4 linked regions of the Homo sapiens genome follow. The protein of the gene in region 4 purifies or fractionates together with the protein of the main gene of each other region. This does not show direct contact. Each region holds a gene or a part of one and is shown on either strand. Other genes may lie near its edges.

Region 1 (3,803 bases), on a different chromosome or scaffold from region 4:
GATCCTCCCACTGTGCCCTCCCACAGTGTTGGGATTACATGCATGAGCTACTGCACTGAGCCAGGTTTTGTTTCTTTGTTTTTTTGTTTGATTTTTAAAAAATTAATTATTATTATTTTTTTAGACAGGGTCTTACTCTGTTGCCTAGGCTGAAGTACAGTGGCATGAACATGGCTCACTGTAGCCTCAACCTCCTGGCCTCAAGTGATCTTCCTGCCTCAGCCTTCCAAGTAGCTGGGTCCACAAGTATGCACTACCATGCCCAGCTAATGTTTAAATTATATGTATAGACATGGTCTCACCACGTTGCCTAGGCTGGTCTTGAACTCCTGGGTTTAAGTGATTCTCCCACCTTAGCCTCCCAAAGTGCTGGGATTACAGGTGTGAGCCACCATGCCCCGCCTTTGTTTTTAATTATGGATTTGTTGCCAACATTTAAAAACTAGAAAGGCCAGGTGCACTGGCTTACACCTGTAATCCCTGCACTTTGGGAAGCCGAGGTGGGCGGATCACTTGAGATCAGGAGTTTAAGACCAGCCTGGCCAACATGGCAAAACCCCATCTCTTCTAAAAATACAAAAACTAGGCCGGGCGTGGTAGCTCACTCCTGTAATCCCAGCACTTTGGGAGGCCGAGGTGGGTGGATCACTTGAGGTCAGGAGTTCAAGACCAGCTTGGGCAACATAGCAAGACCCTGTCTCCCCCAAAAATTAAGAAGCAAAAAATCCCCACACAAAACAAAAGAAACAAAACTATGAAGCCTGTAAACCCAGTCCAGCCTGTGTGCCACCTGATTTGGCTGTACCCCAGCACTGGGGCTCAGCAGTGAAGGTGATGCTGGTCCAGCCATGGCACTCCCTGCCTTGAAGGGTTGCTCCTGCTGCTTGGCAAATTGTGACAGCCCTTGGGGAGTCTGGCCTGGGGACATGGGGTCTTCGATCCCAGCTCAAGAAACCCAAAGCCCCCTGGACTGGGGCATATAGGGGGAGTTTATCTCCAAGAGGTTTGGCTACCCTGTGGATCCTGAGTTGTAGGAGGGGACAGGAATGGTCTGGGCAGGTCCCTGGCCCATGAAGGAAGAAAGAGCCCTCTTGGGCCGGGCGCGGTGGCTCACGCCTGTAATCCCAGCACTTTGGGAGGCCAAGGCGGGCGGATCACCTGAGGTCGGGAGTTCCAGACCAGCCTGACCAACATGGAGAAACCCCGTCTCTACTAAAAACACAAAATTAGACATGCGTGGTGGCACATGCCTGTAATCCCAGCTACTAGGGAGGCTGAGGCAGCAGAATCGCTTGAACCCGAGAGGTGGAGGTTGCGGTGAGCTGAGATTGTGCCATTGCACTCCAGCCTGGGCAACAAGAGCGAAACTCTGTCTCAAAAAAAAAAAAAAAAAAAAAAGAGCGAGCCCTCTTGGCCTGAGTCCCTGGCAGCAATGGAGCCTCATCCAGCGTGTCACTGGCACCCTGGGCAGGTGAGACTCCCCTGCCACAGGGTGGCAGGAGCAGGTGGACGTGTCCTTGGGAGGCCAGCCAGGGGCACGGCCAGTATCCAGGGACTCAAGCAGCTGCCATGTGCTGCTTTGTCTTGGGAACCCAATGCGGTGCCCACGCAGCCCCCCGGGCTGCACCCTCGACCCTGTGGCGCAGCCTCACCCGGTTGCCCTGCGCGGTGCCATCCTGTGTGCGGTAGGAGACCTGGGACTTCCCGCCGTCCAGGACACGCCGGATGACAGGGATGCGGGCCACCTGGTCCCCGCGGCTGACCGAGAACTCAGGCTGCTCAAAGGACACCACGTCTCTGGCTGCAAGGAGCCCGGGCATTTGTCAGAGTGTGCTGGGCCCAGTCCCTTCCCACCTCCTGCTCTCCTGTGACCCTGCCCAGCCCAGCCCAGAATCCAGGAGTCCGCTTGGTTCCCTCTATGCATTGCCCTCTGGGAAGGGCACAGGAGCGAAACGGAAAATCCTTCCAGAAAAAGATGAGGGGCCGGGCGCAGTGGCTTGTGCCTGTAATCCCAGCACTTTGGGAGGCTGAGGCAGGTGGATCACCTGAGGTCAGGAGTTCGAGACCAGCCTGGCCAACATGGCGAAACCCCATCTCTACTAAAGATAGAAAAATTAGCTGGGCGTGGTGGCGAGTGCCTGTAATCCCAGCTACTCGGGAGGCTGAGGCAGGAGAATCACTTCAACCTGGGAGGCAGCGGTTGCAGTGAGCCAAGATGGTGCCATTGCACTCCAGCCTGGGTGGCAGAGCAAGACTCTGTCCCAAGAAAAAAAAAAGTGGTTCTGGAACAAAGTGTCCAGCAGACATCCTGGAAGGGCCAGGCAGAGGAGGGAGGCCAGTCACGGGCAGGACCAGAGATGGAGCCTTCAGCCCCAGGGCTGGAGGAGAGCAGGAACAGGCCTGAGGCCTGTGGCTTCCGGCACAGGTGGGAGGAGGGGTCAGATGTCCACGGTGTGATGCCTTGGCCAACCCTTTTTCTAGATAGAGAGGAGCAAGGGGCTGGCCCTTATGAGGATGCAACAGAAGCTTCCATTTACTGAGCGCTCACCACCAGGCAGGCACTGTGGCGAGGTGAACAGCCACGCATTCCGTAAAAGAGCCCTTACCCATTTTACAGATGGAGAAACCAAGGCTTGCAGAGGTTAAGTGACTAGCCCAGGCCACGTGGCCAGGTCGCAATTCCACTTAAGCAGGAGGAACCAGTGCCCCCGAGCCCCCGTCTGCCTTCCCCACTCTCCCCACCCAGACCCACCTTGCTCCTTGATGATGGTGATGTTTACCAGGCGGCGGCCGAGGGTGGCAGTGCCTGCGGGCACGTCGATGGCCTCCACCAGCAGCTGCTTCTCGTCGTCATCCTCAGGCCGGATAAAGAGGGGCACCCGTACGTCCACCAGCTCCACGCCCTCCTGGAACTCCACCATGCCCCGGGCGTCTGGGTGGGGGTTCGGAGGTGGTCAGAGGTGGGTCACAGGGCCACACAGGCGGGAGGTGCGAGGCAGTGGCACAGCGGACCCGCCCTCCTACCCTGGTCTGCAGTGAGGGTGTAGTAGCCGGGGGCCACCTTGAGGTCGTGGAAGGCCCTCTGTTCCACCTGCTTCTCTGTAAGCTTCAGCAGGGCCGGCTTGGCCGAGCGGGGCGCCATCAGCACTGTGTCCACAATGGTGTGGTCTTGCCTGGGTCGAGGGTGGAAGGTTCAGGCAGCGGAGGGGTCAGGCTGGCACCTGCTGCCCTGTCCCTCCTGCCTGTCTTCTCCCCTTCAGGGGCCAGGATGTAAGACAGCAAGAAGTGCAGGGTCTTCAGAGGCAGGCAGTGCTCCAGGCCTATGCCAGCCCCATACCCTTTACCCTGCAGCCTCAGCCCAGCCATGGCGCCTCCCTGTCCTCAGCGTCCTCCTCTGTGAAATGGGCTTCTCTGCCCACCTCATCAAGGGCTGGACAGCAAAGATGCTAAGGGTGTGTGTGCTCAGGCCAGGCTGCCGCGGCCCTAGCCCTGGTTCTAGTTCTCGATAGCTGGGTAACCTTGGGCAAGTCACTTAACCCTTTTGAGCCTCAGCTTCCTCATCTGCAAAATGGGAACAGCAGTGATCTCTACCTCACAGGCTTGACGAGAGGGTTGGATAAGATGACCACACACGGAAAGCCCTTAGGACAATGCTTGGCCCGTAGCAGGATAAGAAATGCTGGTCAGCCATTCTTTTTTTTTTTTTTCAAGACGGATTCTCACTCAGTCGCCCAGGCTGGAGTGCAGTGGCGCAATCTCGGCTCACTGCAACCTCTGCCTCCCAGGTTCAAGGGATTCTCCTG
Region 2 (2,593 bases), on a different chromosome or scaffold from region 4:
CCCTCACTAGAAGGCAAGCTCCATGGTGGACTAGGAATGCTGGCTATTTTAGTGTTAGCGAAGTCCCAGTTAAAAATCTGTCCTAGAAACTAAAGGGGATTCTGAGCAGTTTTTTTCTTAACCCCTTTATATTTAATACGTTAAATAATTCAATAAGATAGAAAGAAAGTCTACCACATAGAATAAAGTCTGAAAAGCTGCCTCAAAAAAAAAAAAAAAAAAAAAAAAACAGCAACATAACCAAGACTAAATTTACCAATTAAACAAAAACAGGCTTTGAACAAGGCACCAAGGATATTCTAAATTTGGTAAACACCCTAAAAAGATACAGAAGTTCCCTTCTTTATTCAGTCGAAGGGAAGGAAAAAGTATCATAATTAGAATGAATTATGAATTTACATCTAAACTTATTTGAAAATCTAAGAAAACCAAGTTGATCGCATCAACACTCTAATTGTGAAAGATCTATCAGATGGTCAGTGAACTTCAGACAATCCTCAATTTAAGAGCTCAAATTTGAATATGAGGAGTTAACACAGAAGCTCTAGGCAGCTCTTATAGATGTAAAATATTTTATTTGTAAATGGTGATCTTCTAAATCTGTGTCCACAAATTCCAAAACCCATAACACTCTGTATACTTCAAAAAATTCAATTTTTGCCAACATTAGATACTATTATACAGAACAGAAAACAACAAAAACCCGGTAGGACAAATACTGGTAGGATGTCAGGATATTGTACAAGAGAAGAAAAATATTCAGGAAACAAATTTCATACAGCTATTTATCAAGAGAAAAATATATACAATTGATTTATTCTGTAAGATAAAAATACATCATGCCATATACAAGTTCAGAACTGCATCACTGAATATACCAACAGTTTACAGTCCACTTGAATTGTGCACACAAAACTTCATTTTATACTTAGCCTGTGAAGTGTCAGTACCAGAATTTTAAGTACAAAATAAAAAGCTAACCTGGTTCAAAATGCTGATTAAGTTTCTACAAGCAAACACAAAACAGTGTTTTTTTTATTAAAGAAATGTAAACAAACAGTTCATACAAACACATTTTAAAATTACATCTTCCAAAAACCCTATTGCCAGAGTCCTGCAGCTGTAAGCATAATCACATCTCCTTTTTTTTTTTAACTTTTTCAAATTTTTGTGTTAAATAGAAGGCTAAAGGGTTAGATTTAAGTTTCTGCTACATGATCCTATTACGTTTACATGATTCTCTGTGGCTGAAACAAAGTTCTAATCAAAACTACTTTTGCTGAAGAAAAAATTCAGCCTCCATTTGGGTGTATTTTTAAGCAGTTATTCACAGTTATCACAAATTGTAAGCACAAAAAAACCTGACTGAAGAAGTAGGGATGCAACAATATAATATGAAAAAATTAGTTTAAATTACCAAAACAGCTATAAAAGTTGTAGTCGTAGCATACGCCCCGCTCTGTCAGAAGTAAGGTGTATAAAACCATTGAGTACTAATAGACTGCGGTTTCCAAAAAACCCCCAACACTCTAGGTTGAAATTTTGGTTATTACATAATTATAATGGCATATTTTATAACACAAAATTATATTGTAACATCCCTATGAACATTTTATAAGCCCCCGAGCTGCTGCAGAGCCTGGTAGCATTTGGTCAATAACTATTTTTATACTGTATTTTTTCTCAAAATATTTACATATCTGTACAAAGTAACAGGGTTTGTTAGTTCTGCAGGTAACAGCAGCAGCTTGGCTTTCTTCTAACTTTATTTAAAAATAGCTTCATTCACTTATTCAATAATAAATACAAAAGTTTCTCTTATTTTACAGAAATCAAAAACTACAATAAACTGACTCATGGAATCAAGTATTTAAATGTATTTAGTGCAAGTTATTATCCCTTAGCTCTATCCCTAAGGAAGTCATTTCAGTACATTCCTTGTTCAGTGGTGTCTACTTTATTTAAAAACATTTTGAAGTTAGAGGGCCTGCCCCTTTTTAATAAGGCCGTGGCCAGCACTCTCTGTCCCCCTCGCTGGTGATTTCAGTCTTACATTCATAGGAAGGCCCCTGCCCGGGGCAGGGCAGCCATCGGCTCTTTGCCCCAGTAAAAGTTTCTCCTTAGTGAGACTAGAAAACCAAAACAATGAAACCCACCCACAAGGGAAAAACAAAACAAAAAACAAACAAAAAAAAAAGAAAAGGAAAAGAAAAAAAAGCAAAAGTGCTGGACCATTCTGTGATTCCGTTTAACCTCGGCCACTTCAGGAACGCTGCTTCTGTCAGCTTCCTCCTGGCGCTGCTTTAACCTAAAGGACTGAGGAAATCAGAACTCCCAGAAGCTTTTTCAAAAAGTCATAAAACAGAAAACAAAAATCTCTTTCTGTCTGCAAAATTCCAATGGTGTGTTGAATCGCCTCTTCCTAGGGACAAGCCGCCCGCTGAGCTAGCAAGGAATGCATTTCAGTTCATCCACTTCCGGCAGTTCACAGCTCCACAGTGACACGGAATCTTGTGCTGGTCATCTTCAAAGTCAAACTTATAGTCATAGCAGAGCTGCCCACGGCAAAGACACAGGGTAAGAAAGGACAGCA
Region 3 (3,803 bases), on a different chromosome or scaffold from region 4:
CTTGCTGTGTTGCCTAGGCTGGTCTCTCAACTCCTGAGCTCAAGCGATTCTCCCACTTCAGCCTCCCAAACTGTTGGGATTATAGGTGTGAGCCACTCTGCCCAGTTCAGACTTTTTGCAGATTATGTTTTTCCCCCACCAAGATAACAAGAGCGGTCCTTAGTTCTTCTCTTTTTTTTTTTTTTTTTTTTTTTTTTGAGACAGAGTCTCTCTTTGTCGCCAGGCTGGAGAGCAGTGGCACCATCTTGGCTCGCTGCAACCTCCTTTTCCCAGGTTCAAATGATTCTCCTGCCTCAGCCTCCTGAGTAGATGGGACTACAGGCGCGCGCACCGCCATGCCCAGCTAATTTTTGTATTTTTAGTAGAGACGGGGTTTCACCATGTTGGCCAGGATGGTCTCAATCTCTTGACCTTGTGATCTGCCCACCTCGGCCTCCCAAAGTGCTGGGATTACAGGCGTGAGCCGCCGTACCCAGCCACCTTTGTTATTAATGAAAAGCTTTTCCCCTTCTAATTTCTTATCTGTGGATTGATAATAGTGCCATTCATTTCACTTTGAGAAATACGCAGAACTCATTGTCCAGTGGTCACTGCTTTGTTAGAGTATAAGTTATTGGCCTCAATAGTTTGTTCTCTGGTCTCCTCAGTTAAAAAGGACTTTTTTATGGGTCTAAGACAGGCTAAAGGTAGTATGTGGACTTTAATAGATACATATATCCAACGGGCAATATTTGACACTAGGCAAGCTGAAGAAAGTGTGAATTTTGAATATCTTATGTTTTGTGGAAGGTGAGGGATGAGTGCTTCCCCCCCACACACATATCAATTAGTTATTTTTGACAAAGTTAGTGTTAGTGTCATCTGGAAGCTACAGAAATTATTTAAAAAACAAAAAAACAAAAAAACTTTGGCTAGAATTGTTAGAAGCTGGCTTAGTCTGAAGGCACCCAGTACAAATTGTGTTTTAGAATGTTTTAAGAATGTTACTGATTTCGCCCCAAGCTGGCCCATGCACAGGAAGCCCTTCATGTGCACTTTGCTCCTCAAGGAAAATTAATATTTTTCCTAGATGGAACCCTATGGTGCTTATTCCCTGATCTCTTAGAGCATTTGCTGCAAAAGCCTGTTTTTGCCAGAGCTACTTTATTCCTGTAACACAGGGAGTCCTGGGATTCACATTGGCTCTCTTGGGCCAGGGAGAACTCTGGAAAGGTGACTGAGATCAGTTGCTCTGCTGGGAGTTTTGGCTTTTCATACTGAGACAGGCTTTGCACAGTGTCCAGTTCTCTTCCTTATGTCCATCAATAAGTATTTATTTATTGAGCTACTTGTGTTTGCTAAGCACTGTGCCAGGACTAGTGAGGTAAAAGGAAAAAAAAGTGGGTCCCTGTACTCAAAACAGATTCCACTCCTGGTGGGTAGGGGTGGTGGACAACGACAATGTACAGTGAAGGACAAGGAGGGTGTGAAGTGGGAACTGTGGAAATGGTCATTATAAAGCCAAAATTTTTGATTAAGCCTTGGTTACAATTAAAAGAAACAATGGTATCAAGTTGGTTGCTCTGAGAAAAATAAATCCTAGGCTAGTTACTTCCCTCAGTGGGATATGAGGAAGAAGAGGGTGGAGGTTAGGAACACTGAGCAGACAAGTGGAGAAGATCTTATTTAAATTGAAAATCACACATGTTCTCTTTTGTTTACAGGGAAGCAGGAAGTTTCATGAGACAGTCACAGTTCTTTCTGTGCCATTAAACACAAAATTCTTTGAGATAGTTATTCAGTATTAAATATATGTTTCATGTTTAATCTCCCTGGAATGAAACTTTGAACATCAGTGCATGTAAAATGTACTTTTCACTTAATTTGTAGAATTTGATTTTACTTTAATCTATTACTGCATAAATCCGCTGAGAAAAATCTCCGGCCCTTAACTGTGTTTCTGTCTTACTAGCTGAACAAGTAAAATGAATTGTGATGCTGGGGGATTAAAATCCAAACAATTTGATACCTTGTTTCTTCAGTAGAACCCTCAACAGACCTGCCCTGTGCAGTTCCCACCAGCTTCTTTGAACTGAGGCTCTGTGGCCCAGAGAGACCATTTAAATCTTGTGATAATTTTGTATTCATTCAATCCTTTTGTTTCTAAAAGTGGTAGCCATACCAAGATTCTCCAGGATCTAGTCTATCCTATTCTTAAGGGATCTTAAAACAGTGGATTGGTTGCCTAAGCATATAGTACGAAGGGTTTCCTGGTGATGCATTTGGTCTCTGAGCTGTCCAAATCTGCATGTTAGTCCACTACTCAATTTTCAGTGATCATTTTTACATTACAAATTTTAGACACATATACCTGAATTACAGATACTGCATGGAAGGGAATCTCAGTTTGGTTCCATTCGATTATCCAAGATGATGTGTTTCCTTATTCTGTTTACGTGTCATTTGAAAATCCTTGATTTAAAAAAAAAGAAGGCTGGGTGCAGTGGCTTACGCCTGTAATCCCAGCACTTTGAGAGGCTGAGGTGGGAGGATCACCTGAGGTCCGGAGTTAGAGACCAGCCTGGCCAACATGGTGAAACCCCATCTCTACTAAAAATACAAAAATTAGCTGGGTGTGGTGGTGCACACCTGTAATTCCAGCTGCTCGGGAGGCTGAGGCAGGAGAATCACTTGAACCCAGGAGGCGGAGGTTGCAGTGAGCCAAGATTGCGCCACTGCACTTCAACCTGGGTGACAAAGTGAGACTCTATCTCAGAAAAAAAGAAGAATCTTGGTGTGAAGTAGTGCTTTCTAAGGATTTGAGCATTGGATGGGATCAAGTGATGTATATAAATCCTTTCTCTACCTTGAACCACAGGAGCAACTCACCATACCTGGTACATGAATAGAAGAGTGATTTGTCTATAGAGTTGGGATAGTTTGAGACGTAACAGCTATGAAATATTTTATAGTGATTACTTACACACAAAATGTTTTCCCACTCATTAGCCCTAGCTGACCTCACCTTACTTTATTATCCACCCTGTCCTCTCCAGTGTTAGCTTCTCTCCTCATTCTTTACATGCTGACCCTTTTTATGCACAATCCTTTTTGATGGATTTGACTACATGGAACAAGCTTCCTGTGCTTATTTGCCTCACTAATTTCTTGTTGTTAAGTTGCCCCCTAAAAGTTTACTGTCTCTTGATATTCTTTTTCTAACGTTTTTACAAGGGTTAAGCCCTCCTGGTGGGTTTCTTAGAGTGTTTTAATATTTGAAATTATTTATATGCTTTAGGAAGTAGAATCCTTCCCCCTTCTCTATCAGAACAACCCAAGATTATTCTCTTAGTGTGCATTTTCTTCCACTGTACTTCAGATAAACTGAAAAACTGAAAGATTGTTTCCAAAGGTTCTTATAATACAAGGACTGGTCTAAGAGTAAATTTTTTAGTGAGTCGTCTTCAGATCACTTCAGAATTAGCAGTTATTGCCGTGATATTGGAGGGAGAAAGTTAAGGGAGCCGCCTGTCTTTAGTTGCCTTGGAGAAACTGTTTCTTCAGGGTACTAGACAAGTTTCCCAACTTAGGTGCCTCCTTTATTCCCTTTTTAAAAGAATAGCAATATGAAACTGCCGTAGCATCCTTAAAACACTGAACTACTTGCTGTCTCTGTCATTTTGGCAGCATTATCTTTAGCATTGTTTGAATGTTTTGTCTAATTCTTGTAATAAAAATAAAATGCTTGTCTAATCCTTAAAAAGATTTCTCTGAGGCTAGGCACGGTGGCTCACGCCTGTAATCCTAGCACTTTGGGAGGCCGA
Region 4 (3,803 bases):
TCACTAAAACTAGGTAAAGAGATACAGGTATTAGTTGCAACATTTTTCCAATTTTGCTTAAGGTTAGAATGATTGATTATTTATTTGAGACAGAGTTTTGCTTTTGTGCCCAGGCTAGGCTGGAGTGCAATGGCGCAATTTCGGCTCACTGCAACCCTCGCCTCCCAGGTTCAAGCGATTCTCCTCCCTCACCCTCACAAGTAGCTGGGATTACAGGCATGTGCCACCACACCAGGCTAATTTTGGTATTTTTAGTAAAGATGGGGTTTCACCATGTTGGTCAGGCTGGTGTTGAACTCCTGACCTCCAGTGATCTGCCCACCTCGGCCTCCCAAAGTGCTGGGATTACAGGCATGAGCCACTGTGCCCGGCCAATTTTTTAAAATTTTAAAATGAGATAGGGATTTCTGTTTTTTCAGTGAGAGATTTATCATGCATCAGCCTGAACAGAATACATATAACGCATACCATTTTAGTCTTTCCAATCATGGGCAATACTTTTGCAGTTGTCATTAAAATTGTAAATATGTTTTGCAATTTATACTTTCAGACATTTCAGATGCCAAAAATCAAAAGAGCTTACAGAATGGTATTCTTTTGATGTTTATATTCAAATTTTCCACAGAGGGTTGTTACACATTTTTAAATTAAGTTTACAGATTGTGATTAATTTATCCTATCAAGTGATTTACCACCTAATTGCCAAATTAAGCTGGAAAAAAAGCATATTGGGTTGGTACATTAAAAATGAGCAAAAACCACAATTAACTTTCGCACCAACCTATAGCAATATGCATGTGTTGGCCTGCAAACCGTATCACAGCAAAGCAAAAGAAAAGCTTAACAAAATCAGATTTTCTTTCTTTTTTTTCAGACAAAGGTTGATGAATTGCATGAGTGGGATCCACCTTAGCTACGGAGACCTAATGCCTTGGGGTTTTACTCCTGCTGTCCTAGTCATTTCTTTTCTTTCTTTCGAAACAGAGTTTCACTCTGTTGCCCAGGCTGGAGCGCAGTGGCACAATCTCGGCTCACTGCAACCTCCACCTCCCAGGTTCAGATTCTCCTGCCTCAGCCTCCCAAGTAGCTGGGATTACAGGCACATGCCATCACACCCAGCTAATTTTTGTACTTTTAGTAGAGACGGGGTCTCACCATGTTGGCCAAGCTGGTCTTGAATTCCTGACCTCAAATGATCCACGTGCCTCAGTCTCCCAAAGTGCTGGGATTACCCGTGTGAGCCACTGCACCTGGCCAGTCCTAGTCATTTCTAATATAGCATTTGTCCCACGCAAAAGCATCTCAGATAAGTGTCCCAGTTTAGATGCAACATTATATGGTATATAGCACTTTTAACAACTTTTGTTATATGATGACATACAGTTGGTTTATGGGGGGACAAATCAGTATAACGTGAAGTTAACTTCTACTTTAAACAAAACACATTTAGTACATGATAGTAAAGTCATCACTAGAATGAACATAACATATTGAGATAACTGCTTTTACTCTTTTAGAATAAAAAAGGAGAAACCAAAATTATATTTTATCTATTGTGCAATATAAAATAAAATACTGCACATGGGAGGAATACTAGAATTAGAGTCAAAAGGCCTGTTTAAATCCCAGCTGGGTCACTTGACAGAGAATATAAACTTGCGTAAGTTACTGAATCTGTTTCAACCACAGCTTTCTCACTTGAGAAATGAAGAAGTCAGAATGCTGGCTGATCTCTATCTAAAGTCATAGTCCAGCTCTAAATATTCAATGATTCTATGATTCTGGCCTCCAAAATATTTTTTCAGACTAGACCAGCTGAGTTCTACTGGTCTAGACCAGTACTGGTAGATTTTTTTTTTACAACTGCAAAATGTAACTTAGCATCTTCTCTCCCCAAACTCCTATTTCTGCTCTGACTTGTTCTGTTCAGAGGTTGGGTCAAACTCTCATTCACCCATGATGAAGATTCCTATGTATTTTTGACTCCTCTGACACCTAATCAGCTGTCAAATCCCAGATTCTTAACTTCCTCAGTATCTTATACACTCATCTTTTTTTTCCTTTCTCTCTCTTTTTGCTTTGAGACAGGGTTGCACTCTGTTTCCCAGGCTGGAATGCAGTGGCACAAACTCAGCTCACTGAAGCCTCAAACTGCTGGGCTCAAGCAAACCTCCCACCTCAGCCTCCCAAGTAGCTGGGACTACAGGTGCACACCACCACACCCAGCTAATTTTTTAAAATTCTTTTGTAGAGGCAGAGTCTTATCATGTTGCACAGGCTGGTCTCAAACTCCTGGGCTCAATCCTCCTGCCTTGGCCTCCCAAAGTGCTGGGATTACAGGCGTTAGCCACTGGGTCCAGCCTCACTCACCTCTTTTTGCCACCACTTCAATTCAGGCCTCCATCGCTTCTTGCCTAGATCGCTAGTTTTCTCCCATAAATACACCTGGTTAGTAATCCCAGACCAGAAGATTATTCTATCACATCAGTACGCAACAAAAAGCATGCAATAGCTCCCATACCTAAAAATTTATGCACAAGTTCCTCAACCTGACATTCAAGAACCTCTATATCTGGCCTTAACCAGTTTGCTACAAATACCTTATATAACCTGAACTACCCACTGCAATATCAAAATCTCCTGTACTTTCTGGATTTTTGTGTCCTTACTTCTGTTGTTGTTCTTACAATGCCCTTTTATCTGCCTTTCAAAACTGATTCCATTCTTCAAAGTTCAGTTCTAATGGTAATCGCCCTCATGTAGATATTATGGCTCCCATGATACTAACATAATGTGACAATTTTAATGGCCAACTGTGAATTTTAAAAGACAGTTTACCTATGATAGTAAACTAAATTTATTATTTGTGCCAATGTTGTTTAACTGGCACTGGCTACCAGGCACACTGTCTTGAGGATTTGCAGCTTAGCAGAGGAAAAGGAGAATGGCAACACATCTTTGACATTCAGAAACCAGGGCTTCCAAATTGAGGATCTACATAATAGGGTCTAGGCTTCCATGTTATTAAAAGATTTTTTTTTCTTTTTTCAGACAGAGTTTCACTCTGTCAAGTAGGCTGGAGTGCAGTGGCACAATCTCGGCTCTCCGCTCCCAGGGTTCAAGTAATTCTCCTGACTCAGCCTCCCGGGTAGCTGGGAATACAGGCGCATGCCACCACGCCCAACTAATTTTTGTATTTTTAGTAAAAATGAGGTTTCACTATGTTGGCCAGGCTGGTCTCGAACTCCTGACCTCAAGCAATCCACCTGCCTTGGCCTCCCAAAGTGCTGGGATTATAGGTGTGAGCCACAGCACTCGACCAAAAGATGTTTAAATTAACTCAACATCTAAAAGTTTGGAGGCTTTCACGTTACAATTCCTAATGAAGATCTAGAGCAGTGGTTCTCAGCCAGGGTCGATTCTGCGCCACTCCCAGGGACATCTAGCAATATCTGGAAGCATTGGTGATTGTCACAACTGGACGGGGAGTGCTACTGCGGATGCTGAACATCCTGTGATGCACAGAACAACCCTCAAAATAATAAATTATCTGGTCCAAAATGTCAAGTGCCCAGATGAAAAAACTGATCTAGAAGTATTGCATGCATCTGTGGGTCCCGCCTACCAAAAGAAATTTTCAAATTTTGCAAGTTCGAAGCCTAAAAAGTTACTCCAATTACCAGTGATATGGTCTCCTCCAAGTTACTTAACCTCTTTATACATCAAATTCTCCATCTGTAAAACGGAGATAACAATACTACCTACCTCACAGGGTTTTTCAAGGATCAGATGAGTCCATGTAA

Evidence for each region.
Region 1: the proteins of TNRC6A (region 4) and ITGB4 purify together in Homo sapiens (affinity purification with mass spectrometry; one large-scale study listed by BioGRID and IntAct). This does not show direct contact.
Region 2: the proteins of TNRC6A (region 4) and KMT2C purify together in Homo sapiens (affinity purification with mass spectrometry, with the first as the bait; one large-scale study listed by BioGRID). This does not show direct contact.
Region 3: the proteins of TNRC6A (region 4) and CPSF7 purify together in Homo sapiens (affinity purification with mass spectrometry, with the first as the bait; one large-scale study listed by BioGRID). This does not show direct contact.

Annotation. Positions count from the first base shown.
Region 1 is NC_000017.11:75,741,711-75,745,513, reverse strand, and holds part of ITGB4 (integrin beta-4 isoform 1 precursor), read right to left. Parts: intron 3,174-3,803; coding exon 3,025-3,173; intron 2,933-3,024; coding exon 2,753-2,932; intron 1,802-2,752; coding exon 1,653-1,801; intron 1-1,652. UniProt on the Homo sapiens protein: Integrin alpha-6/beta-4 is a receptor for laminin. Plays a critical structural role in the hemidesmosome of epithelial cells. Is required for the regulation of keratinocyte polarity and motility.
Region 2 is NC_000007.14:152,134,370-152,136,962, forward strand, and holds the end of KMT2C (histone-lysine N-methyltransferase 2C), read right to left. Parts: intron 2,556-2,593; coding exon 2,463-2,555; 3' UTR 556-2,462; downstream 1-555. UniProt on the Homo sapiens protein: Histone methyltransferase that catalyzes methyl group transfer from S-adenosyl-L-methionine to the epsilon-amino group of 'Lys-4' of histone H3 (H3K4).
Region 3 is NC_000011.10:61,423,421-61,427,223, reverse strand, and holds part of CPSF7 (cleavage and polyadenylation specificity factor subunit 7), read left to right. Parts: intron 1-3,803.
Region 4 is NC_000016.10:24,732,453-24,736,255, reverse strand, and holds part of TNRC6A (trinucleotide repeat-containing gene 6A protein), read right to left. Parts: intron 1-3,803.